2 separate regions of the Homo sapiens genome follow, and region 2 is linked to region 1. The links come from fine-mapping of genetic effects on gene expression. A gene starts in region 1. The other region holds a variant in brackets. All regions are shown on one strand. Distances are between the middles of the regions.

Region 1 (12,224 bases):
CTGTTGGCTTTCTCAACCTTTGAATGAGGCCCTGACCTGGGAGATCTAGGCCTCTCTTGGCCTACCCGTGAGGGTCTACATCTGAAGTCAAGTATCCAGCCAGAGCCAGCCCCTGAATGGGTGCCTCTGCTCTTCCCCAGCACAAGCCCCAGGCTTCTGAAAGGCCAGTCCTTGTCCTGGTTTCTTTCGTCTGCTCAATAGCCCTGCCTGCTCTGGCTCTAGCCCATCTGCCTTCTCAGCTGGCTTCCTCTGTTTAATCATCCCAAGAGAAGGGCCTCCTGTTTGGGCAGGGAATGTGTGGGCAGGAGCTCAGCACAGAAGCAAGTCTGCATGTCATAGAAATGCAGAGAACAGAAGGCCTTGAAAGATATAAGGAGAAGGTGGCCTAATCAGACACAGAGGGCGGGGCTGAGCCAATGGGGAAAAGGGCAAGCTGGGCACCCCAAGGACTAAACTGTAGCTGATTTCTCTCCTAGCGCCAGACCTCAGCTGCACGTGTGTGCGTCAGAACCAGGAGTGCTGGAGGCAGAGCGTATTACATGACCCTCACACTACTGGGAATGTAAACACTGGGTTTCCTGGTTAAAGCACTGATATTTTGTGGACCTTGCAAGCTACCTAGAATAAGCAGTCCCTTATAAAGCAGCTTATCTGGCACTGTGCATGAGGCAGTAGGTTCTGCTCTCTGCGGTTGTTTCCCATGAATATTTACTGAAGTTTTATTTCAATGTTCCCCTCTTATCTCAGTTGTGATATAGAGTATTGAAAGAAGGATCGTGTGCCCACATTTGGGCCAATGGGGCAGTACCATGGGAGATTGAGACTTCCCAAAAGGGAAAGTAAATTGTTCTAGCTACAAGAGTCAAGCTAGGTGGTCCAAAATCCCCCTCTAAAAAACCAAAACCAAAACTAAAACCAAATAACAAACAACCTTGGCAGGTCAAAGCTTGAGTTAGAAAGACAGATTCCCTCAGGACTGAGCCCAGGCCTACTTCAGGACCTCTTGCATGTGCTTCCTTGACCTCTTAGTTTTCTGACTTGTTCCTGGACAAGGGTCCAAGTCTCTTTCATATGCCTTTGCCCACATTGGCTTTGCAATTCCTTCCTTACTCCGATCTAAAGCATCCCTATTTTCTTGCCCTGAGATATCCCATTCTCTCCAAAATGCTGGCTTATGTCTAGCAAAGGAAGTATAGATGGAATTTCATGATTTCGAGAAATGAGTTATACCCTTTTAGCACTACATTTTCATTCCTTTCCCCTCCATCCTCTGCTCCCCCTCCCTTCTTCACTATAGCTATTACTTGTTTTTTATTTTCCCTTTTACAAAACATCTTGAAATCAATCTACACATGCCATCTCCTAGCCCTCACCTTCCATAACCCATCTGCATTTAGTTAGAGGGGAGAATATGGGCAAGATACAAAGATGATGAAAACTTGGCATCCACAAGGAAAATATAAGATATTTGAGGCTCCTGAAGCCAAGTGTGACCATCCAGCTAGAGCCAGTGTTTGGGTGTGAGAGTAAACAAAAGATAGAAAGTAAGTAATGACAGTAGTGTGACGAGAAGTCTGAGAAACTATTGGAGAGAGGGACATGTATTAGTCAGCTCAGGCTGCCACAGCAAGACACCACAGACTGGATGACTTAAACAACAGAAATTTATTTTCTCACAGTTCTAGAGCCTAGAAGACCCAGATCAAGGTACCAACACATTCAGTTTCTGGTGAGGGCTCTCTTCTTGGCCTGCAGAAAGCATCCTCACATGGTCTTTCCCCTGTGTGTGGCTTGCAGGGGGAAGAGGTGGCAGGGGATGAGGGAAATGGTGGATCACAAGATATCTGGTGCCTCTTCCCCATCTTGTAATGACAACAGTTCTAGCCCCACCCTTATAACTTTATTTAACTTTAATTACTTCTTTAAAGGCCCTATCTCCAAATACAATAACAAGGGCAGGAGCCAGACCCTTGGAATATAATTCTCTCTTCTCCATGTCCAGCTGAGATTTTATGGCCCGTTTTTTCACACTTGTCCCTTTATTTTGCCATTCCATTCATCTGGTAAAATTCCAACTTTGGATGAACCAAACCATCAACATTCTCCTTGCTTGCATCCAACCAGCTGAGCTCTGCTGAGAAATTGATCCCACTAGAAATTTGTAGTCATCACCCCTTAAGTGGGCCCTCAGTATTTTCCTATTATTTCACTACATTCCTCAGGTCTCCTTTTCCCTTCTCCCATTATATATTGTTTTCTTAAACCATCTTGACTACTAAAAATTTTCATCACACGCACACACACAAACACACACACACCACTCTCTGATAACCAGATCTCCAACTCCATAGCAAAAATAAAAACTATCAGACAGCAGCTCCCTACCAAATCTACAAACAACTGTCTCAGTTAAGATGCAGGTTAGGTTGCCCTGACAATAGAGGAAAAAAACTGTAACGAGTTAAGACTGCAGTTTCTTTTTCATGCAGAAGAATCAGGGATGATAAAATGGTTTGAGAGTATAGGAGACCCAGACTCCTTCCATTTTGTCACTCTGCCATCCCTAATATGTTACCCTCACTGCATGATTGAAGGTGGCTTGCTTTCCTATTTACATTCCTATTGCCCTCCCATAGGGGCAAAGAGGAAGAGAAGGTCCATTTCTCTCCTTTAAGACCTTGATGTGGAAGCTGCACATATCACTTCTACCTACAGACACTACCTAGTCATAGTGTGCATTTTTTGCACTTAGCTGCAAAAAGGTCTAGGAAATGTAGCGGTTAATTTGTAGGCCATAACTTATTTTCATCTATAATCATCTTTTTCTACTAATTTCCTCTCACAATTGAGTCTCTACTGCAATCAAAAGCTAGGATCCTCCACTTCCGCTCTGGATTGCATACATCCCTGACTTCTCAGGAACCTTGCATTATTAATTAGCCATTCTCCTGTATCTTTAGTCTTTTTATATATTGGAGTAATTCCATCTGCCAAAAAAATGAAAAAAAGAGAAAGAAAGAAAGGAAGAAAGAGAGAAAGAAAGAAAAGAAAGTTCAAGTCCACCCATCTTAAAAAAAAAAATCTTTCATTTGACATCCTCTTGCAGCTCTATCCCCTTTCCTTAGTAACTACATTTCTTAAAAACTTGTCTGAAGTCATTTACTCCACTTCTTCCCACCATATTCAGTTTTCAGGACATCTACCCTGCCTTCTGCCTCAACAACCTCACTAAAATGGCTCTTTCTAAGGTTGCCAAAGATCTCCAGGTTACTAATTTTGGACCACATTTCTCATTCCTCATTTTGCTTACCCAGGAGCAGCATTTGAATGAGTTCACCAGTTTCTTCTTGCACCTCTTCTCTTTTAGCTTTTATGATGCTTCACTCTCTGGGTTTCCTCCTGTCCCTCTGTCTACTCTTTCTTGGTGTCTTTTGCAGGCTCATCTTTCTCTATCCAGTCTTTAATAATGACCTCTAAAAGTCTGACTTGATCCTTCATTTGTTCTTATTCTACACACTCTAATTCTGTGGTTTGCATTACTTCCTATATGATCTGTATATTTAGCTTCCTAATGGAATTCTACTTAGGTATCTAATAGACATCTGAAACTTAATATGTCCAAAACAGAACAGATTTGATGGTGGGAGTTTCTCTGTGCTAGTTACTATTTTCTCTATGAAGTTGGAGTCTAGGTTGAGAGTGAAGAATGCTCTGTGTCTCTGTGTGTGTGTGTGTGTGTGTGTGTGTGTGTGTCAGGGTGGGAGAAGAAATTAGAGATTTTATGAGACGAGAAAATTTAAAAACAATATTGTGTAAAATGAGAGAAAGAAGGTAATCAGGGAAATTTGGTAAGACATCTACTCATTCTAAGCAGCACAGTATGAACAACTGAATTCTGATTTCCAAAATCCCTGACTTTGACTTCTGGCTCTTTCACCTAGTAGCTTTGTGGCTTTGGGCAAGTTACTTAAACTCTCTCTAAGCCATAGTTTTTTCATCTAAAATAGTGATCAACAATATTGGACCTAAATTCATGGTTCTTCATGAAGATTAAATGTACTTACAGGTAATGTGCCTTGAACATCATAGGTGATCATCAAATAGTTTATATTGAGTTACCAGAAACCTTATTCATTTTTTATCTCATCCTTCTTTCTCACCCTCCACATGCAAATTATCTTTAAATTCTGTTTCTACCTCCTAGATAGGTCTTAGATCAATCTTTTCCACTACGTCCATGACTTTAGGTCAAGCCACTACCATCTCTCACCCAAATTACTGTCATAGACTCCCAATTGGTCCCACCTTTTAAGTTGCTCCCCACACTAACTCCACTGCAATCTTTCCAAATCTTTCTAAATCTTAACAAATTTCCAATGCTCCCAATTCTTCCTTGCATGGCTTGCAAGAGTCTGCATTTGCTGCCTCATGAGATAGAAGGTGTATGATTTGTCTGTTGCTGTTGTAATAAATTACCATGAATGTAGTGGCTAAAAACAACACCCATTTATTAGCTCACAGATCTATTGGCCAGAGGTCTACACAGTGTGGCTGGGTTCTCTGCTCAGGGTATCAGAAATCAAGGTTTCAGCCAGACTGAATTCTCTTCTACAGACTCGGGGGAGGACTGAAGTCTCTGTTCTTTTGCTGGCTGTCAGCTAGAGACTGCTGTCAACTAGAGGCCACTCTCAGGGCTTGTCCTGTGCCCTCCTTCACCCTCGAGCCAGAAAACAGCCACCATTCGTTCCTTGCCACATTATCCCCTCCATCTTCAAGCTATCAACAGTGTGTTGAATTCTTCTCATTCTTCCAATCTCTTTGATTTCCTCTTCTGCTACCAGCAAGAAAAAAAGAACCCTTGGCTTTTAAAGAACTCATGTGACTTGGTTAGGACTAGCCAGATAATCTGTCTATCTTGAGATCAACTGATTAGTAGAATTAACTCCATCTGCAAAATCCCTTTTGCCATATAACATAATTGTGGGAGTAGTATCTCATCATATGCACAGGTCCATCCACACACAAAAGAAGATTATATAAGGGTGACAGTCATTGGTGGTCATCTTCTAATTCTGCCTACCCAAGGAGAGGAAGCCAGGGGAAATATCCCTGAAGAATCGTAGCTTGAGCTGAGATCAGATGGATGAGTAAGTGTTAACTAGGTAAGGAAGGAAAGAAGAAGCTTCCAGAGAGCATATGGAAAAGTCATGCAACTGAAGGACATATAGCAAAAAAAAAAAAAAAAAAAAAGAAAAGAAAAAAGAAAAATAAAAGAGAAAAAAGAAGGAGTGACCAAAAAAAGGCTAATGTGTTTACAGTGGAGAGAATAAGAATCATTGTGACTCTTATTTGAAATAATGTGATTTGAAATAATGTGGCTAGAGAGGTAAGTGGGAGCCAGGCCTCACAGGCTTTCTAAATTCTGTTAATATGTTTTCTCATTCCCAAAAGCAAAGGTCAAAAGAGTGGGATAGTCAGATTTGTATTCTGAGCATAGTACTTCGGCTTTAAGGTGAAGTATAGATGTAGAGAGGCATCAGTAAAATGTGGTGGCCCATTTAGGAGGTTAGGAGTGTGGTTCAAGAGTAGGGTAATATCAGTGGACATATAAGCAGGCAGATTCAAGGAACACTCAGTAGCTAAAATGAACAGGACTTTGTGATTGATTCAATATGGGAGTGATGTAGTTATGTTCCCCAGGAAGCAGACTCTCAAACAAAGATTACTGTGGAGGATGTTTACTAAGGAGCGTTCTTGGAGTTAACACCTGTGCAAGAGAGAGGATGAAAATAGGATTGGGCAAAAGGAGAAGCTGAGTAGTAATTCAGTCCCAGCAAAGACCTCAGTCAACCATATGAAGGGTTCTAGGGGTGTGAGCATCTTTCAGAGTTGTCCACCACTGGGTTGAGGGGATTAAACTTTTATACCTCTGTGCTGATCGGTCATTGGATATAGAATGCCCAAGAAAGGGAGCATAACCTTGGATGAGCTGGCTTTCTTCTGCTTAGGCAACTCCTGAAGGGTTATGACAGCTGAGGGCCATCTTTTAGGAGCACTCTCCACAGCTGGAAAATAAATCCTCCATTTTTGAAGAGGGTTCTGGGCTTTGCATCACAGCATCCAGCGCAGGGGTGAAGGAGCATAGGGGAGTAAGGCATCAATAATAATTCCTAAATTTCTGATTTGTACATCCTGGTGGGTGCACTTAACGACCATATATTACAATCATTGGCTTGCTTGGGAAAATCCCACTAGAGTAGGTGCTACTGAGGGGCAAACTATATTGGACAACTAGTGCATACCCCTAGAACTGGCATAGTTTGCTAAATAAGTGAATGTCCATCTATTTCTATTTTCACTCCCCTCTCCCTTACATCCTTTGCTCCCTTCCCTCCTCATCGTACTGTCATCCAATGTGGGAAAACTTGAGCAGGTTATCTGAGGCCCCACCTGTGCTGGAGCGGAACAAATAGCAAATCAAGCTCCTCTGGTCCAGGCTCTCTGATGGGCAAGACAGGCAGTACCAGGAGGAAGGAAAGGGGGAGCAGTTGATGACATCTCAGGCATAAACTGTCTTTCAACTCTCTTTCAATGCTTCAGCCCCTATAAACTCAGGGCTGGCTGAACCAGGTCCTCTCCAAAAGATTAATTGGATAAGGGCCTGCTGAATCCCCCATAAAGCCAGACTCCATTCTCTAATTTGCTCTTCCACTGATGCCCGCCCCCAACCTCTTACAGCTACTGCTGGGGGTCAGAAGAATTTCACATCGTATTGGAGTTCATCCGGAATCTGAAGAATGGATAGGAATCTGGAGATAGGAATCTGGAGATAGGAATCTGGGGAAGAAAAGGAATGGATAGGAGAATGCATAGGGAGCAGGGCTGAAATAGTAGAAGAGGCAAATCCTGCCCCGAGAAGCTGAACCCAGTTCAGTCCTGCACCCTTCAGCCCTGTTCCCGCTGCACCGCAGTGACCCAGTCCCCTTCTAGCCCCCTCTCGTGGGAACCTGACACCCTACACAGGCAGCTCTGCCTGCACTGAGAGCAAACAGGGAGCGTTAGCGTGTCGGGTGGGCGTGGGCGCTGCCTGGAGACGGTGGAGAAAGCCAACCTTCTCCTTCTCTTTTGCCTGCGCTGGGCCGGCGTTAGAATTATATCCCATCCTCACCTTACTCTGGTTTATCCTTGTCAGTGCTTGCCACCACCCCCAACTGCCCTCAACACTCAAGTCAGAAGCTTCCTCCCGGGAGCCCTTTTCCCTGGCAAGGCTTCCCTGGAGCCAAATCTCGGCCCCGGCCCCACCCCCACTCCCGCCCAGCTGTGGAGGGCTCCTTGGGACCCTTAAGTGCAAGCCTGAGTGTTAAGCCTCAGACAGGAGATGGAGGGTGCGGAGACAGATGCAGGAGCTACCCCAGGCCCGCAGCGAGGAGCTGCAGGGAACTACGGTAGCAATAGTGTCACGGTCACTGCGGCCACTGCAACACAGTACGGTAAATGCGGCTCTAGGCTCAGACTAAAGCATCCGCGCCTCAGCAGGTGACGCACGCAGACCTGGTCTCCAACGCCACCTCCACGTTCCCTGATACACCAGAGAAAGATGCTGGATCCGTGGCAGCCGTCTCTACCCAACCCCTCCTACCCTCCCTTCCCCGAAACCTCCCCCTACGCTGCCAATACTCTTGTCTTCAATCTCTCTCTCTCTCTCTCTCTCTCTCTCTCTCTCTCTCTCTCTCTCTCATTCCTGGGAATCGGGGGTGGGGGCGGGTGATAAAGAGAGGTGGGCAGGAGAGAAATCTCTAAGAGGAGACGGGACACATCTAGGGAGGGGGCGAGCCTGGAGGACAGTCGCACAGGGAGGGGCAGAACTCCCGAGCCAGGGAGGGGGTGCACAGTCACCTGGCGGGACAGAGGCTGGCGGAGGGACGGGAACCCAGGCGGGGCGAGCCGCGGGAGAGTGGAGGGCAGGCGCCTGGGCTGGGGGCGGGGACCAGGCGGGGCAGGGGGCAGGGAGAGGAGGGCGGCGGGAGCCTGAGCCGGAATCGCAGCGTGAGCAGGTGGAGCCGCGTTGGGAGCCCGCCGGGTCGAGCTGAGTAAGGCGGCGGGCTCGGCGGGGGCCATGGAGCTGCTAAAGCTGAACCGGAGCGTGCAGGGAACCGGACCCGGGCCGGGGGCTTCCCTGTGCCGCCCGGGGGCGCCTCTCCTCAACAGCAGCAGTGTGGGCAACCTCAGCTGCGAGCCCCCTCGCATTCGCGGAGCCGGGACACGAGGTGGGTGCCTCCCTCAGCCCCCCCCACAAGCTATTTCTCACTGTACCCCAGAACACTAATAGAGTCCCCCCAACGAGCTCCACACTACCTTCTCAAACGTCCACACCGTGCCTCTCATAGTACTCCCTCAGCCCCCAAACAGCTCCCCTCACACCTTCACCCCCACAGCCTACAACTTCATCACAGCTTCACACCACCTGGTCGGAACTCCTTCACATCCTGGTCCCCTGAATACACCTAGAGCCCCTGCTCACCCCAAAGCACAGCCCCTTCCCCAACACGCAGCCCCTCCTAGACACCAGTCAGAAGGCGAGGACCTCCTCTTGCCAACCCTGCAGATCTCCTTTTCCCTCTTACATCCAGTTCACAGAGCCACAACAGAGAAGGGAAGGAAGAAAGGAAGGCAGGACTGGGAAAAGAAGGGGGCTGGTTGAGGGAGGGAGCACTCTGGAAAGCTTGAATGCGAAGCTGAAGTTGTGATCACATCTGACACCCCAGCCCCCAGCCATCCCAAAAAAGATCCTCAAATCTGAATTAGGCTGGACACTAGGGGATGCTCCTTAGAGCTGCCTGCCTCCATTTCACTCCTTCTCAAACCCCTCTGCCTCCCTAGTTGGAGCTTTCGAGGCTCTGTGCCCTCTCTCTTTGTCTGCAAGTAATGTCTCCAGCTATCTTCCAAGCTCTCTCTCCAGCCCTAGGCTAGGTGCTGGGGGCACAGGGCAAACTAGACCCAGTCTGGACCCTCATGGCCCATAGCCAAGTGCAGAGAGAAACCAAGCAAATGGAAAAATCACAGACACAATGGAAGTCCCATGAAAGGGTCTAAACTGTGGGCACCAAAAGAACTTCACAGAGGCTAGAACCTTAGAGCTGGGTCTTGAAGTTGAGTAGGCAGAAAAGGAAGGAGTGGGATTCTAGGTGAAGGAGCAATGTTAAGCAGAAGGAAATTTTTCTAAACTCAAAAAGGGAAAGTTGGAATAAATTGTAATCCAAGTATTTATTTACCCCACGAAATAATCTATGCTTTCTCAGCCGAGTTGTTACACACTCACACTTGGATTCTGTCATTCAGCCAATATTTATTGAACCAGAGATTGTGCTAGGCAGTGGGAATGTAAGTTGAACAAAACCGACACAATTCCTACTTCACAGAGCTCAAAGTTTAATGGGCGAGACAGAAAAGCAGGGGATTGCAGCACAAAGTGGAAGAGCCTTGACAGGGAAAAGATAGTGGGAACACAAGTGGAACACCTCTAGCCCAGCCCAGCCTCCTTGAGAATTAAAGTTGGCCTCTTGAGGAAATGAGCTACAAAGTCAAAAAAATTAGGGAGGCTGGCTCTAAGCTTCCTGTTGGCAAAAAAAAAAAAAAAAAAAAATATATATACACACACACACACACACACACACACACACACACACATATACATATGGGAGAGCCAGCCAAGTGAACGGGCAGAAGAGGCAGAAAGCATCCCAAATAAAAGGACAAGATGTATAAGAAGCTCAAAGTTTGAATTCATGGCACTTTTATCCACTGTGACATAGTTTTGAGTGACTAGAACATATATCTTAAGAAGGGAATAATGAACAGGCTGGAGACCAGCCTAGAGGGTTTGCAGAGAGCCTGCTAGGCCTGACCATGGAACATGGACTTTCTCCCGAGGGCAATAGGAACTACTAAAAGATTCGGTAGTACTACCAGGATTAGTTCTATAATGTGGAGAACGGATTGGAAGACATAAGATGGAAGGCAGGGGGATACTTTACAAGGTTACTATATTACACTGTTCTGGGTGAAAGATGATGCTAGCTGAGACTAAGGTAATGGCAAGGGAGATGGAGAGAGGTGGATAGATTTGAGAGCCTCTTCTGGAAATGGAATCAACAGATTAGAAGCAGAGAGGATGGAAGAGGTCAAGGGATGACATTCAGATTTCTAACTTGGACAACTGAATGGATATTGGTGCTATAGCAATTGTATACAATGAGAAAGATAACAAAACAGCAGAAACAGGTTTGGAAGAGGGAATTATAAATTCAGTTTGGAACCCATTGAGTTTAAATGTTAGTGGGGCATCCAGGTGAGGTTACCTAGTAAGCTGTTGAATCCAGGGGTCTGGAACTTACAGGAGAGGTCTGAGGTGGAAATACAGACTTGAAGAAGGTCTTTGCCTACAGGATGTAGAAGCCCCGAGAATAGTTAAAATCATAAAATTTTGTATAGAATGAGAAGAAAATAGGTCCTAGGTCAAGACTCTGCATAAGACCATTATTTAAAAGCCAGGCAGAGAAAGGAGAATTTATGAAGGAGATTCAGATGAAACCATCAGAAAGGCAGGAGCTACGCCCTTCCAGAAAGCAAGAAAAAGAGAGTTTCAAGCAGGTTGGGGTAAGTGATATCAAATGCTATTGACATAAGTTACATAAATAAAAAACAGGACAGTCAGAACAGCATCCTTCACATTCAATAACAAGAAAATATTTAGGAGTTGTAGGTATTGAGGCTTGACTATGGTAGGTTAAAGATTGGACTGGTGAGAGAAGGAGTTATGAGAAGTGAACCAAGGTATGTAGCCAAAACTTTCAAGAAGTCTGGTAGGCAAAGAAAGAGAGAGAGAGAGAGAGAGAGAGAGAGAGAGAGAGAGAAAGAAAAGCAGGATATTGCCAAAAATAGCATGAGATTGAGGAAGGGGGGAGTGGGTATGTGCATAGGTTTGTTACGTGTGTGCGCGTGTGTGTGCACGCATTTTAAAACAAGAGCTTTTTAAAATGTTTGTTGGTGATTGGGCCGAGAGAGGAAGATTGAAGGTGCAGATAAGAAAGGGGATAGTCAATAGAGAAGATTCCCTGTGAAAGCGGGATGTGACGCAATTCAGAGCACAGGTGCAAAAATTTGCCTCACTTATCTAAATGCTCCTCACACATTTGGATGTTACCCAGCCAGTCAGATGTTACACACAGAGACCCTGTCAGCCACACTCATTCAGATATTATCCCTGCAGATGCATAGGTTACCCAGGTTCACTCCAATGTTACCAATAGGAATTTGGATGTTACCACTTTATTCTCCTTATATAATCCATGCAGACTTGAGTATTACCCATGTTCACTCAGATAGTACCCACAGAAAGACAAATGTTACCACACTCACTTTAATATTGTCCGAAGTCATTTTGGTGTTACCCATCCATCAAACACTACTCACTTTCATTTTATTATTATCCACACACAACCAGATATTACCTATGCTCACTTAAGTAAGCTTTTCCCAGATACTACCCATAAAATTACAAATATTACTCTCACATACTCAGATAATACCCACAAAAGCTTAAATATTACTTACATTCACTCAGGTGCTCAGTTATTTCATTTACTCAGATTAACATCTTTTTTTTTTTTTTTTTTTTGAGGCAGTCTCCCTCTGTTGCCCAGGCTGGGGTGCAGTAGCATGATCATGGCTCATTGCAGTCTTGACCTCCGCAGGCTCAAGTGATCCTCCCACCTCAACCCCCTAAATAGCTGGGACTACAGGCATGTGCCACCACAAGTGGCTAATTTTTTGTATTTTTTGTAGAGATAGGGTTTTTCCATGTTGCCCAGGCTGGTCTCTAAATCCTTGGCTTAAGAGATCTGCCCACCTCAGCCTTCCAAAGTGCTGGGATTACAGATATAAGCCACCATGTCTGGCCCAGATTAACATCTTAATTTAGTTAACATGTTAACATCTAACATCTGTACTCAAATACTACCCATACATACTTGGATATTACTTCTGCTCAGTCAGCAATTTCTATCATTATTTGGATATTCCACTACTCACAAGTAGACCTCTGAATGTAATCTATGCTTCCTGAAGATGTTACCTACAAAATGTTATCTACAGAGAGTTGGATATTAACCCTTGCTCTTTCAAATGTTACTACAGTGACTCAGATATTATCTAAACTTAAATGT
Region 2 (12,789 bases), 34 kb after region 1:
ATCATTAAAATCCCAAACTTACCAAGGTTTTCACCAAAAATAAAAGTTGCCAGGAGTTAACATTATAACATGTAATTGAGACTACTGAGGAAACGGTTCTACATGTAAGGCATGTAAAAAAAAGTAAAACGTGTTTTTGGTAAAAGATTATAAGAAGGCATAGGAATGTGGATTTTTTGCCTAAGTTTAAAGGGTCAAAGGATTGTTTTAAGTTAAATAAAATAAAGCTAAAGGTTTGAACAAGTTATCGAAGGCTTGTAAAGAACTAATTGTAAAAGAAATTCTGTGTGTAAACATGTTGGCTAAAGTTAAAGTGGCATTATTCAGTTTTTCTGTAAACTGAACATTGGAACAAAAGCACAACAGGTTTTTCTTAGAGCAAAAACCTGCTTATAATCTGCTCTTTAACAAAAATTTTTAAGGGTTATAAAAGGTTTATGAGAATCTTACCTTATGGCCAAACATTAAAATTTGGTAGATTTGTCTATAAGGTTTTATTAAGAACTGGGTTTGACATCAATAATGCCCTAATGCAACAGTGACATTTGGCTTTTTTGGCATAAAAATCATACAGGAAGCATTATTAAATATAAAATAGTGTTTAGCTTTCTTTGGGCTGTATTTGTATAAATGTGTTATTGGTATGTGTTCCAAAATTATTTTAAAACTCCTGTAATTCTGACAGGACTTAGTGTACGATTGTTACATAAAATCCTTGTGTGCCACAAAGGTACTCAAAATTTCCTAGTCAATTTTGGCTTGACTGTGCTAAAACTTTTTGTCATCCATAAAAAAATTGTAGTCTCGTTTTGTTCCTCTTTAGAAGGTGGTTTACAATCAGCTATAGAGCTATACAGGGGCTCTTAAATGCAGGTTTTCTGGTAACTTCGGAGATTGTGACATCAGAATAGAGGAAAAAAACTTTCAGAGCTCTCACAGGGAGCTGAAATGTTCATGAATATCAAACAAAAGTTAACTGCATAGAGTAACTAAAGAAGTCTGAAGTATCTTCTAAACTTTTTGCTTAAAACGTTTTTTGCTTAAATCCTTTGTTTTGTTTTTCAGAGTCAAGAAAACTTTTTTTTGAGCTATTTACAGCTTTTAGCAATTGAGTAAAGTATACTCCTCCGAACAAAATTTGGAGCTTATTTGTTTCTCTCTACCTGATTTCTCCAGAATTTGGAAACTAGTTGTGAATATTCTTAAGTTATGGCAATATAGGTATTTGCATAAGTGCAATAAGAATGTTTTCTTTTGCAACAGGACACAATTGGAGAAATTGGTTATTTTACCAACACTTTGATTGGAATGGTGTGCTTTTCTTTAAGGAATCAAACTTGACTTGTAAAGCCAATAAAAGCCCCTTGGGCAATTGGCCTCAGACCTTGTCTACAAGGTCCCCATACAAGGTATGGATAACAGTCCCCATACAAGGTTTCTGACCTGTGGTAAGTAAAGAATGTCACTTTCTAACAGGTCCAGAAGCCCCAGGTTATCTTGCGACCCCAAGAGGAGAGGAATTTATTCAACTCATAGGTATTCGAGGGTACAAACCCATGAAAGGGCTCGGCTCTAAAAAAGTCTTATGTAAGATTCCTTCTAGGGAACAGAGTTCCATCAAAGCCTGTGCAAAAAGAGCTTATGAAAAAAATAATTATTTTTGCTGCACTTTATACAAGTAATCAGGCCAAGCAAAACAAAGCAAATTGGTCTTACCATAACTTATCTTTAGTAAAAATGGGACACTGGAGAGAGAAATTATGTTTCAAGAACTGTGGTACACTGTTTATTAAATTCTAGTCTCATCAGTTGTTTTTAAGTTTGTTTCTGCAATTTAGGCTAACGCTGCTTATTTCTGTGAACCAACCAGAAATCTCTGACTGCTGCTCAGAAGAAACAAAAGGGAAAGGTAATGTGAAAATCTGAATCAGTATTCTAATTCTGGGCATGTACTGGAATCATCTAGCAACCCTATATCAGCTTGGTTCCAATAGTTGCCCAATTCATATAAAGCCTTCTAATTTAGTTTACTTGAGATAGTTTTACTTATTTTGCTTTACTGTTGTGGAATATATTGCTGTTGTACTCTTTGTGTAGGAATGTAGGATAAGCTTACTGAACGTTTTCTTAAACTAAATACGTATTAATCTTCGAGATATCACCTTTTCTCGGAACTCAAAGTTATGATTGGCCCTTGCCATACCAATGCTTTCTGATTGAGTTCCTCTCTACCCTAAACACAAGAGGCTCTAATAGCTAGGCAGGAATATCATCACCCCTATTCAGGTGAAGCCGTTACAAAAGATGGATCGTCATCCCTCTGCAACCTTAGGATTAAGGGTTCTCCTATAAAAGGCAGAAGGGACATGTCAGAGGCATATGAACCAGAACAACTCCATCTTGAATAGGAGCTGGGTAAAATAAGGCTGAGACCTGCTAGGCTGCATTCCCAGACAGTTAAGTCATTCTAAGTCACAGGATGAGTTAGGAGGTTAGCGCAAAATACAAGTCATAAAGATGTTGCTGATAAAACAGGTTGCAGTAAAGAAGCTGGCTAAAACCCACCAAAAGCAAGATAGTGATGAGAGTGATCTCTGGTCATCCTCACTGCTACACTCCCACCAGCACCAATGACAGTTTACAAATGCCATGGCAACGTGAGGAAGTTACGCCATATGGTCTAAAAATGGGAGGCATGAATAATCCACCCCTTGTTTAGGATATCATCAAGAAATAACCATAAAAATGGGCAACCAGCAGCCCTCAGGGCTACTCTTGTCTATGGAGTAGCCATTCTTTTATTCTTCTACTTTCTTAATAAACTTGCTTTCACTTTACTCTGTGGACTCGCCCTGAATTATTTCTTGCGCAAGATCTAAGAACCCTCACTTGGGGTCTGAATCAGGACCCCTTTCCTTTAGCACTACGAATTCCAGCAAGTACAAAAGAAATACACACATAGAGCCATCATAGTGAAGATAAAGAAAACCAACGAAAAAGAGAAAAGCTTCAAAGCTGCTAGGGAAAAATATAAATTATGTTTAAAGAGAGGTATATAACATGTGAGAGGCATGTCTGAAGAATCTGATTCATTAGGTTTAGGGCAAAGCCCAGGAATCTGACTTTTTAACAAACATCCAAGTGACTCTTACCTTTGTGGAATATTGGGAATATGGTTAGGAGGTGAGGATTACAAAGTTGGTCACACCACTGATCAATTTGAGTGAAGAAATATTCCCCACTATAGGAAAGGAGAGGAGAAACTGCAGGCAAGGGGCTAGATCTGAGAAGATGTAACATGGTCCATCCCTAGATAGGTTCACTCACGTTTGGAAGGCACAGATGTGCAGGAAATAAAATTTTAAGGCAAGCCAACTATGATCTCCTTGAATGGGCAATAATGGGCAAAATAGAGGTTTTGACTGTGGGGGTCTGAGAAAGCTTTGTGGAGGAAGTACCTTCTGAGCTAGGCTGCTCTCTACAGCTCTAAAATTCTTCCCAGGTGAATATGAAAAGAGAGTCAAATTCCAAGAATGACAAGTAGTTTTGAGCAAAGGAAGAAAGGTACAAAATGCCAGAGCTGGTTTGAGTAAAAACAAAAAAATTGAGCTATTTCTTCCATACCCGAAGAGAAAATGCTATGCTAAGTGGATGGAGAGGTAGAAAAGGGCCAGGTGGAAATGACTGGACAGTTTGAAAATCTGTTGCAGAGGTCTGACTAAATTGTGGGAGAGAATGGGTAGGTGAGAAGAGAACGCGGACCCTGAAAAATCTACTGAGACCAGGAGCCCCTGAGATAGGCAAAGCCCAAGGTCAGTTCCTGCCTCAGGAGCCCCAATCCCCACACTTTCAAGGGTCACTTTCTGACTCCATAACTGACCAACAAATTCTGAGACTTTAGCTTCAAAATGCCAAAACCCTCTGCTAATTCATTCCAGTGGTAGGGACCCTGTAAGTCCCCTCCTGAAACTTTCAACACTTCTCTGCCTGCTCTAACCCCTGCCTACTCATCTAGCATCTTTCACTTGTTCAAAAGTCCTGTTTGTTCTGTGAAAGGAAAAAATAGAACGGGTGGCAGGTTTTCCCAGTGCAGTTCCCAGCTTGACTTTTCCCTTTGGCTTAGTGATTTGGGGGTCCCAAGATTTACTTTCCTTTTACCGTTCCTACATCAGGAATGATTTCTCTCTTTTCATTAGCAATTTCTTCTTTTCTCCTCCTCTTCATTTGACTAACTTATTATACTTCTTTGTCAGGTCTCTATTTAAAAATTTCTTACTCAAAAGAAGCCTTTCCTACTCCTTTAGTCTAAACTGTCCTCCACTCGTTACCTGTTACGCCCTTCTAATTTTTCGTCATAGCATGTACAAATATTTAAGATTACATGCTTATTTTTGTTGTGGCTCTCTCCTTTCACACAGTAAGCTCTGGGACCTATCTGTGTCCTTCACCACCCTTTACTCGGTACCTAGCCCAGAGCTCACTCTCACCATTAATATTTGTTTTAAAGAGAGAGGAAGGAGAGGATTGCGACCTTAATAACTCTTAGCCCACAGCCTTGGCATACCCCCTTCTCAGGACCCTCTGAATTCTCAAGAGCCTCTTGCCTTTCCTGTCTTCTTCTCTAGAGTGTGTGCCTGGGTTCAAATCCTGGTGTTAATATTCACTAGCTGTGTTACACTGGATAAGTGGTCTATACTGTTTAAATCTCGGTTTTCTGAGGTGATAGCAGTTACCTCATAGGGTTGTCAGGAGGATTATGAGAAAATCCATGTGAAACATCTAACAGAGTACCTGGAAAATTATTGATAAAAATTAGCTGCCATTGTTATTGTCATTAATAACTAGCAATCTCTAAGATTCAAGCTATTGGGTTTTTTTCCCACAAGAAAGTTCTCATTATATATATAAATCTGTGTATCTTTATATATATATATATATATATATATATATATATACACACACACACGTAATATACGTATGTATATATACTTACATATATAAAGAGTTCTTATAAATCAATAAGAAAATACAAGCACAATAGGAAAATGAGCAAACATTATAAACATGCAAATTCATAGAAATATGTTTAAAAATTGTAATGTTATTATCAGAGTAAAAAGGAGAGATGGAGTATAGTCTGACTCTCAGGTACTCCCATAACTTTCCTGCTATAGTTCCTCCCACTGGTGTTGGGGAAGAAGGAAAAGCAGAAAGACAGCATCCCCTTCCTTAGCCAGGTGACGCTGTGCTCCCGTCTCTGTGGGTGGTTACTGCTTCTCTGGCTAACACAGACTGGCGTGATGGCCTCTGTGAGGCAGGTGTCCAGATCCTGGCACTTCTGGAGCATATATGTAGTTATCTGGAGGTCACATATTTGTCTAATTCTTCTCATGCCCCCTTATAATACCCCCCACCAGAAATGTATTTGTAGGAATCCTCAGTGATGCCTCTGTATGCCTTCCATGAGATCCCTTGTATGCGCTCCCTCGTATGCAGTCTCAGTGAGATCTCAGCTCCATTCCTTGGAGTACTTCAACCACCCTGGGACACTGCTGTCACCACCACCAGGGTTTCACTACTCTAGAACTGTGAAGTTTTCCTCCAAATGCAGAGGGAACACCCCTCCTCCCCCCCAACTCTATACAACAGAGATTCTAAATAAGCAAGGTGGTATAGTTATTGTAAGAGAATTCCGCAATAGAATCCTCCAAGGAGATTTGGTGGCTGAAGAATCTAAAGGTCTTCCCCTGGAAGTGGTCCGAGAGCATGGCCCTGGGGAAAGCACTGGGGCTTACATTGCTCACTTCCACCTTCATTCCCCTCTTTTGTTTTTTAATCTTTCCCTCAATTTATTTCCTTCTTAAAAAGATGATTTAGCAGGGTGATCCCCTGGGAATTGTTAGAAATCAAGGCTCTCAAGCCCATCCCAGACCTTCTAAATCAGAACCTGTACTTTAACAACACCCCTAGATCATTCCCATACAAATTACAGTTTGAAAAGTACTGATACATAGGACAGAATTTTTGGATTCTCCCACCCCAGTTATTCACACTTAAGTTCATTTTTGGCCCCACAGCTCCATTCCCTGCCTTTGGCCTGTGGTCTTCACTGCCAGCAAGGACTCCTTGCCTAATTAGCTAGTCAGCCTACAGGGTCTACCGCAGTAGTGCTGCAGGGATTCCATTTAGGCAGCTTTACTTCTGTTCATTTTGAAGCAATGTTGGTATCATCTGCACCAGTAACTCCATAATACCCTCTTCTTCAGGTGTGTTTTAAGATATTTCAGCTGGGCGCAGTGGCTCATCCCTGTAATCCCAGAACTTTTGGGAGACCAAGGTGGGCAAATCACAAGGTCAGGAAATCAAGACCATCCTGGCCAACATGATAAAACCCAGTCTCTGCTAAAATACAAAAAATTAGCCAGGTGTGGTGGCGGGCACCTATAGTCCCAGCTACTCGGGAGGCTGAGGCAGGGGAATCGCTTGAACCCAGGAGGCGGAGGTTGCAGTGAGCCAAGATTGCACCACTGCACTCCAGCCTGATGACAGAACAAGACTCCATGTCAGAAAAAAAAAAAAAAGAGACTTCAATATATTATAAAGAAGGAATTGATTATAATGCACCTACTCGTTAGCAAATGCACACAAACATTCACTGTACTTAGAAATAAAGAGCACAGTTTACACTGAAATCATACATGCACATGGTCCTTAAAGATAATTCTTTCATCAGCTCATAACTTATATCAAAGATTGGTAAGGACAGTACCACTCTCAGCAGAGAGGCAGAAAAGGGCTCTAGCTGGTGTCTACCTGCCACTCTAAGGTGCAAAGCCTCTAGAATTCACTGAGAGGTTCTTTGGCATGCTTCCTAGGACATAAGTCTCAGAAAATACAAAGACCTGCCTTGTAAGGTTTTAGAATTCATTGTTTCCTCTGTCTAGTTTGCTTTCTCGATGGTTTTGACCAGCTGAATGAGCCAA[C/T]ATTGGGGTATTATTTTTCTCCTCTAAAAAGCCCTTATCTCCAGAACTTTCTGTCTGATTAACCCTGTGACATATTAAAAATTTGAAGCCAACGCCTGTAATCCCAGCACTTTGAGAGGCCAAGGTGGGCAGATCACCTGAGGTCAGGAGTTCAAGATTAGCCTGGCCAATATGATGAAACCTATCTCTACTAAAAATACAAAAGCTAGCCAGATGTGGCAGCACGCGCTTGTAATCCCAGCTACTCAGGAGGCTGAGATGAGAGAATTGCTTGAACCCAGGAGGCCGCTGTTGCAGTGAGCTAAGATTGCACCATTGCATTCCAGCCTGGGAGACAGAGTGAGACTCTGTCTCAAAAAAAAAAAAAAAAAAAAAAAAAAGAAGCCAATGTTAGAAAGCTCAAGTCAGAAAGTTATTTTCCGGCTTGATTGTTTTGTCCTTTGTAGTTGACAAATTTCTCAGAGACTGCAGGGTATTTTTCTGATTCAAATATCCTCAGGATAAAAGTTTCTCAAGTCCTGTTTAGTTACCGGAGAAGGATATTAGTTTGTTCACTAGAGGTTAGGAAAGAGACTGTCTTCTTTGGAGCAAACTTGTATAGTCATTATGTTAAAAGGGTAGTGCTATGGTTTGAGTGTGGCTCCCAAAAGCACATGATGGAAACTTAATCACCATTGTAATAGATTAAGGGGTGGAATCTTCAAGAGATGATTAGGCCATAAAAGTTCTTCTCTTATAAGTAGATTAATGTTTTTGTTGCAGGAGTGGGTTCCTTAGTTGGCCCTCATTTGCTCTCTCTCTCACCCTGTCTTTGCCCTTCCAACACGGGTTAACACAGCAAGAAGGCCCTCACCAGAAGCTGGCCCCTTGATCTTGGACTTTCCAGCCTCCCAAACTCTGAGCCGATAAATTTCTCTTCACTGTAATTTACCCAGTCTGTGGTATTCTGTTACAGCAGCACAAAAAAGACTAAAACAGATGGCATTTAATAGGATGCAATCATAAGGCAACTTTATTTTTTAACCTGCTCCCTCTGCTCAGGGGCTAGTTTCTTCCTTGCCCCTTAGTAAAACCTCAGGTAGGTGGGTTCCTGTAGCTTCTCCAGACACTCAGAAAAATTAAAAAGTACTCCAGTCATTTTTAGTCATAAAACAGTCTCATAATAGTCAAAACTCTGAACTTTAAGGCAAATTTTTCTTCTTTCTCTCCTTCCCCAGCCCAAGCCGATTCAGGCTGGAAGCTGAATATACTCAGAGGTTCATTCAGGAAGCCTGAACTCAAGAGAAGGAGGCAGGGGCAGGGGAAGGGGCAGGGGTGGGGGTGTGGGTAGGCATTGGCACAGCTAGCTTCTTTGTTTTCCAGCCTAATCCTTCTACTTCTCCTCCCCTACTTTCTCTGGGGTATGGATCTGACAGGGTTTGGGGTAGAGGTGGGAGAAGGAAAGAGCGAGAAAGGAGAAAAGGCCTCAGTTCAGGGGAACAGTAGTACTTGCTGGTAGTGTTCCATGATCTTTGCAGATGCTTACTATGGACTCCTCACACAGGACACTTATGTGGGGCCCTTACAGATGGCTCCACTGAACACATTGGTCTGTAACAGACCCTCCTGCTGGCCACTTACTCCATACGTTTCTGCGTTTGATTCTAACCCCCTGCTGCCTAGCACCCTTTAGGAGGAAGCCGACTTACTGAAGTGGGATCTCCTGGAAAACAATCTTCATGTTTATATTTTCCCTTCCCCTATCTGGTTCACAAGAAATACACGCTCCAGCCCTACTTTTAATCTTTGCCTTTGCCTTTAATATTCTCCAGCATGGGGCAAAGACCAGTCACTTTGGGCCTGTCAATTCTACAGACATCGTTTTCCAGCTTTTCCAGCTGATCTTTTAAAGCCCCATCTCACGAGACTTAGGGTGAGGAGGAGCTCACCACTTCCAACCTTCCACAAGGTAAGAAGGTGGAAGAAAAAAGTGCCACAGTGCCTCAACCTTTTTTTTCCAGAGTCTCTCTTCTGGAGTTCTTTTTTTTTTTTTTTTTTTTTTTTAAAGACAGAATCTCGCTCTGTTGCCCAGGCTGGAGTGCAGTGGCACGATCTCAGCTCATTGCAACCTCCATCTCCCAGGTTCAAGCAGTTCTCCTGCCTCAGCCTCCTGAGTAGCTGGGATTACAGGCGCCTGCCCTCACACCCAGCTAATTTTTGTATTTTATTTAGTAGAGCCAAGGTTTCACCATGTTGGCCAGGCTCATCTCAAACTCTTGACCTCTAGTAATTTGCCCGCCTAGGCCTCCCAAAGTGCTGGGATTACAAGCATGAGCCGCCGCACCCAGCCACTCCCTCAGTTCTTCAACCTCAAACCATGAGGGATTGAGGAATGGATACTGACCTGTAGCTCACAAAACCTTTGCTGGTCCTGCCTTGGTAGTCCAACACTCCACCTTGAAGTAGGGGGCTTGCCACCTTCTGTTATTTATTTTGCTTCTGGGCTGCAGCTGCATCTAAGACAGAGGGAACTCATTTTAATATCATGTCATACCTTCTAGAGCACCACATTGTGCCCTTAAAGTTTCATTTTAAAGCTCTCGGAGAAGGGAGCATCTCCACCTTTTCCGAGCACTATTTTAGACATGTGAATGATAGACTGCCTTCTTTTTTCTTTCTGTCCTCCTCATTAACAGTTTATTACAGTATTTTTTTTTTTTTTTTGAGACGGAGTCTTGCTCTGTCACCCAGGCTGGAGTGCAGTGGCGCGATCTCGGCTCACTGCAAGCTCCGCCTCCCGGGTTCACGCCATTCTCCTGCCTCAGCCTCCCCAGTAGCTGGGACTACAGGCGCCCCACACCACGCCTGGCTAATATTTTGTATTTTTAGTAGAGACGGGGTTTCACCGTGTTACCCAGGATGGTCTCGATCTCCTGACCTCGTGATCCGCCCGCCTCGGCCTCCCAAAGTGCTGGGATTACAGGCGTGAGCCACCGGGCCCGGCCTTACTGCAGTATTTTTGTGAGGATTTCTCTTTTCCTTTTTTTACATTGGGAAATAAAGTTGAGCAATTCACTATAACTCTGAGTCAGAAAAAAATTTTATTTAGGAGCTTCAGAAAAGTAGGAAGAGCCTGCTGTTTTTCTTGTTGAAACAGTTCAAGAAAATCCCTTTGGATTTGTGAGTGGGTTTTTGGTTTGTTTTACTTCGCTTCGCTTTGCTTTGCTTTTTACATTGGAAACTACAGTTAGGGAGATTTTAAACAAATTCAAGTTTTAAAAAATTATTTTTAGCTCTTCACATCTGGATTTCAAAAACATGGAAAGAGGGTTGATTTTTTTCTCCCCGTTGTGTGTGGCCTGACTGGTGATACTGTGAGTGCTACGAGAGGGTGCCTGTCCTGATTGGATGAAAGTCGTGGGCTAGTTGGGGTTGGAGAAGAGTTGTAAACAGAATCCTAGAGTCGTGTGCTGGGGCTCAGAAGTGAGTGGATTACAGGCAGGCCCAGTTAGGACCGTAGCTTTGTAACACTGAAAATGGCATCAGCATCCCAACCTTAAGGATTACCTTATGTAGAGTAGATTTTGAGCTTCAATAAAACCATGCATTGTCAATAGCCCACACTTCCTATTATCTGTTTCTGTTTCTATGGGAGCTCTTTTACAACTCTAAGCTGTAAATAACGGCAATGCAAAACACCATTCCCTCTTACCTCCCTACCCCACCCCACCCCCAAATAAAAACGAGTTTGGGCTCAATTTACACATGCATCTTTGCTATTTTTGTAATTTTAATTTTTCTCTTTACTAATTTTGTGTTTTGGTTTTGGTTCATTTGTAGGCAATAATCATTAGCAGCAGCAATGATTGAGAATTGGGTTTCATAGTCTGACCATTTGGTGATCTCTATAAATAGATGAATGACTTATAGAGACATATTCTCTTTTGTGTGAGAGAAAATGGAGAATCTGGATTATTAGTTCTTTTTGTTTGTCTATTTGTCTACTTTAAGCCCAAATGAATTAAGAATCCTGGGCTCACTGGGAAGGAGAACAAATCTTTCATACTGAGACTGGTGAGTTTTGGGGTTTCTTTATTACCCTTAACCCATGATGGAATTTTTAATTGAAGTATAAGATTTCTTTGTCTCTGTTTGTCTATGTGTCCATAATTTAGAAAGATCTTTACCTTTCACAGTGTAAGTATGTAAAATTTTCCTACCTCTAGATAATACTAATAAATTAGATTATCAATCTCTTTTTAAAGAGGCTCTTTTCTGATTGGCTGATAGAGATAAATAAGCACTTATATAAAAAGAATATTCTTAAAATTCCCAGAAAATAATGGATTTGAACTTCTAATACTTTAAATATGCTACATTTTAAAAATATCCTTATCTCCTTCTTTAATATGCTTCATTACAGACACAAAGACCTAGGGCCATTTCTTGGTACTCTTCTGTGTCCAGGTGACTGCAATACAGCTAAACAGCTTTTCTGATATGATAGCCTCTGCCCGTTTAGTTAGACAAGGTGCAATATGAATCAAGTCCATCTGTAGGAAACTATCTTCATACAGATGAAGGGTTCCTAGTCCAGTTCTAAATAAAAATTTCTTCCTGTCTCTGTAAAACATCTCAGACTGGATAGAACAGATCAAGTAGAGTAGTGATTTATGATACAGTGTGAAGATCCTATCTATTAAGCATGTGCCTGGTGTAAGGCCATAAGACTTGAAGAAACAATCTGAAGAAATTGTCTTCAGAGAATACTTCAAACGTTGCAAAATATCTTAACACCTTGCTGTGATCCACACAGAAGACCAACTGGCGTGACTTATTTATGAGATCTTTGCAAATGCAGTGAAGGCATTGGTCTCTTCCAAATTGAGAATGAGCATTACCACAATGACATGCATCCTTGGACATAACTAACATCAGGACTGTAACATAAATATGCTGCTACCATACTATGTAAAACATCATGAAATGGCCACTCTTCTAAAAGATGTAGGTAGAGAGATGGCAATGCATAGGATCTGTCCAGCTTAATTCCAGACCAGCACCAGGATCGCCAACAGGTACACCTTCTCTATCAGAGAGAATGATGTGTTCAGAGAGAACTTGTTTCACCAAAGTTTTTTCACCACTCCTTTCCTCTTGAGAGGACTAGTTCATAAAGGTCAGGAATGATAATCCATTCATTTCCTACAGTGAGACTACAAATTTGCCCAGGAACACTAGGGGGCAACCCCTGAACATAATTTACCTTTTCTCCTACTATGCCTTATTTTTCACTGGTCCAAATAACCACTGCAACTGGCAATATTTTCTTCCTGTTTAAATTACTGTTTTCTTTCTTTCCTTCTTTCTTTTTTCTGTCTTTCCTTCTTTCTTTTTTTCTTTCTTTCCTTCTCTCTCTTTCTTTTTTTTGACTGCTTTAATTTCTTGATTTTGAGACTGATTCACAGTCCCACATTCTTGTTGGTGACCTAAAGCTTCTTCTAATGATTTGACAAGATTTCCTTGGAGTGGGCAAAGATTTCTTAAGCAGAACATAAAAGCAGTAATCAATCATATGATGGCTCATACCTGGAAATCAGAGTACAGGTAAAAATGGTTCAGATTCGAAATTCTTATGTCTTGAAGCCTGACATGGTGGTTGACAGGTCCTTCTGTTTGTGCTTCATACTTTTGCTAAATTATTTTTGAAAGTTTTCTAAAGATAATCTCTGGGATAAACTTTGCCAAATAATTTGTAACCAGGAACACGAGGAACAACTGGTGAGCCTCTTTTGTCCTTTTTAGAAAAGATTTGAGACAAGCAGGG

Which allele goes with the higher level. Alleles are on the strand shown, and positions count from the first base shown. SD is a standard deviation of normalised expression in the study named.
In carriers of allele T in region 2, the expression in thyroid of the gene that starts at base 8,026 in region 1 tends to be lower than with C alone (small effect, 0.40 SD a copy in GTEx).

What was found.
Region 2: its variant is fine-mapped to the expression of CCKBR in thyroid (GTEx, PIP 0.96).

Annotation. Positions count from the first base shown.
Region 1 is chr11:6,251,813-6,264,036 of GRCh38, forward strand. It overlaps CCKBR (cholecystokinin B receptor), which reads left to right and starts at 8,026. Exons shown (of 5, transcript NM_176875.4): 1 at 8,026-8,267. The coding sequence starts at 8,117.
Region 2 is chr11:6,285,837-6,298,625 of GRCh38, forward strand. No RefSeq gene overlaps it. Among named protein-coding and RNA genes, the nearest start is that of CAVIN3, 28 kb to the right of the region's middle. The variant C/T (reference allele first, on the strand shown) is at 6,984.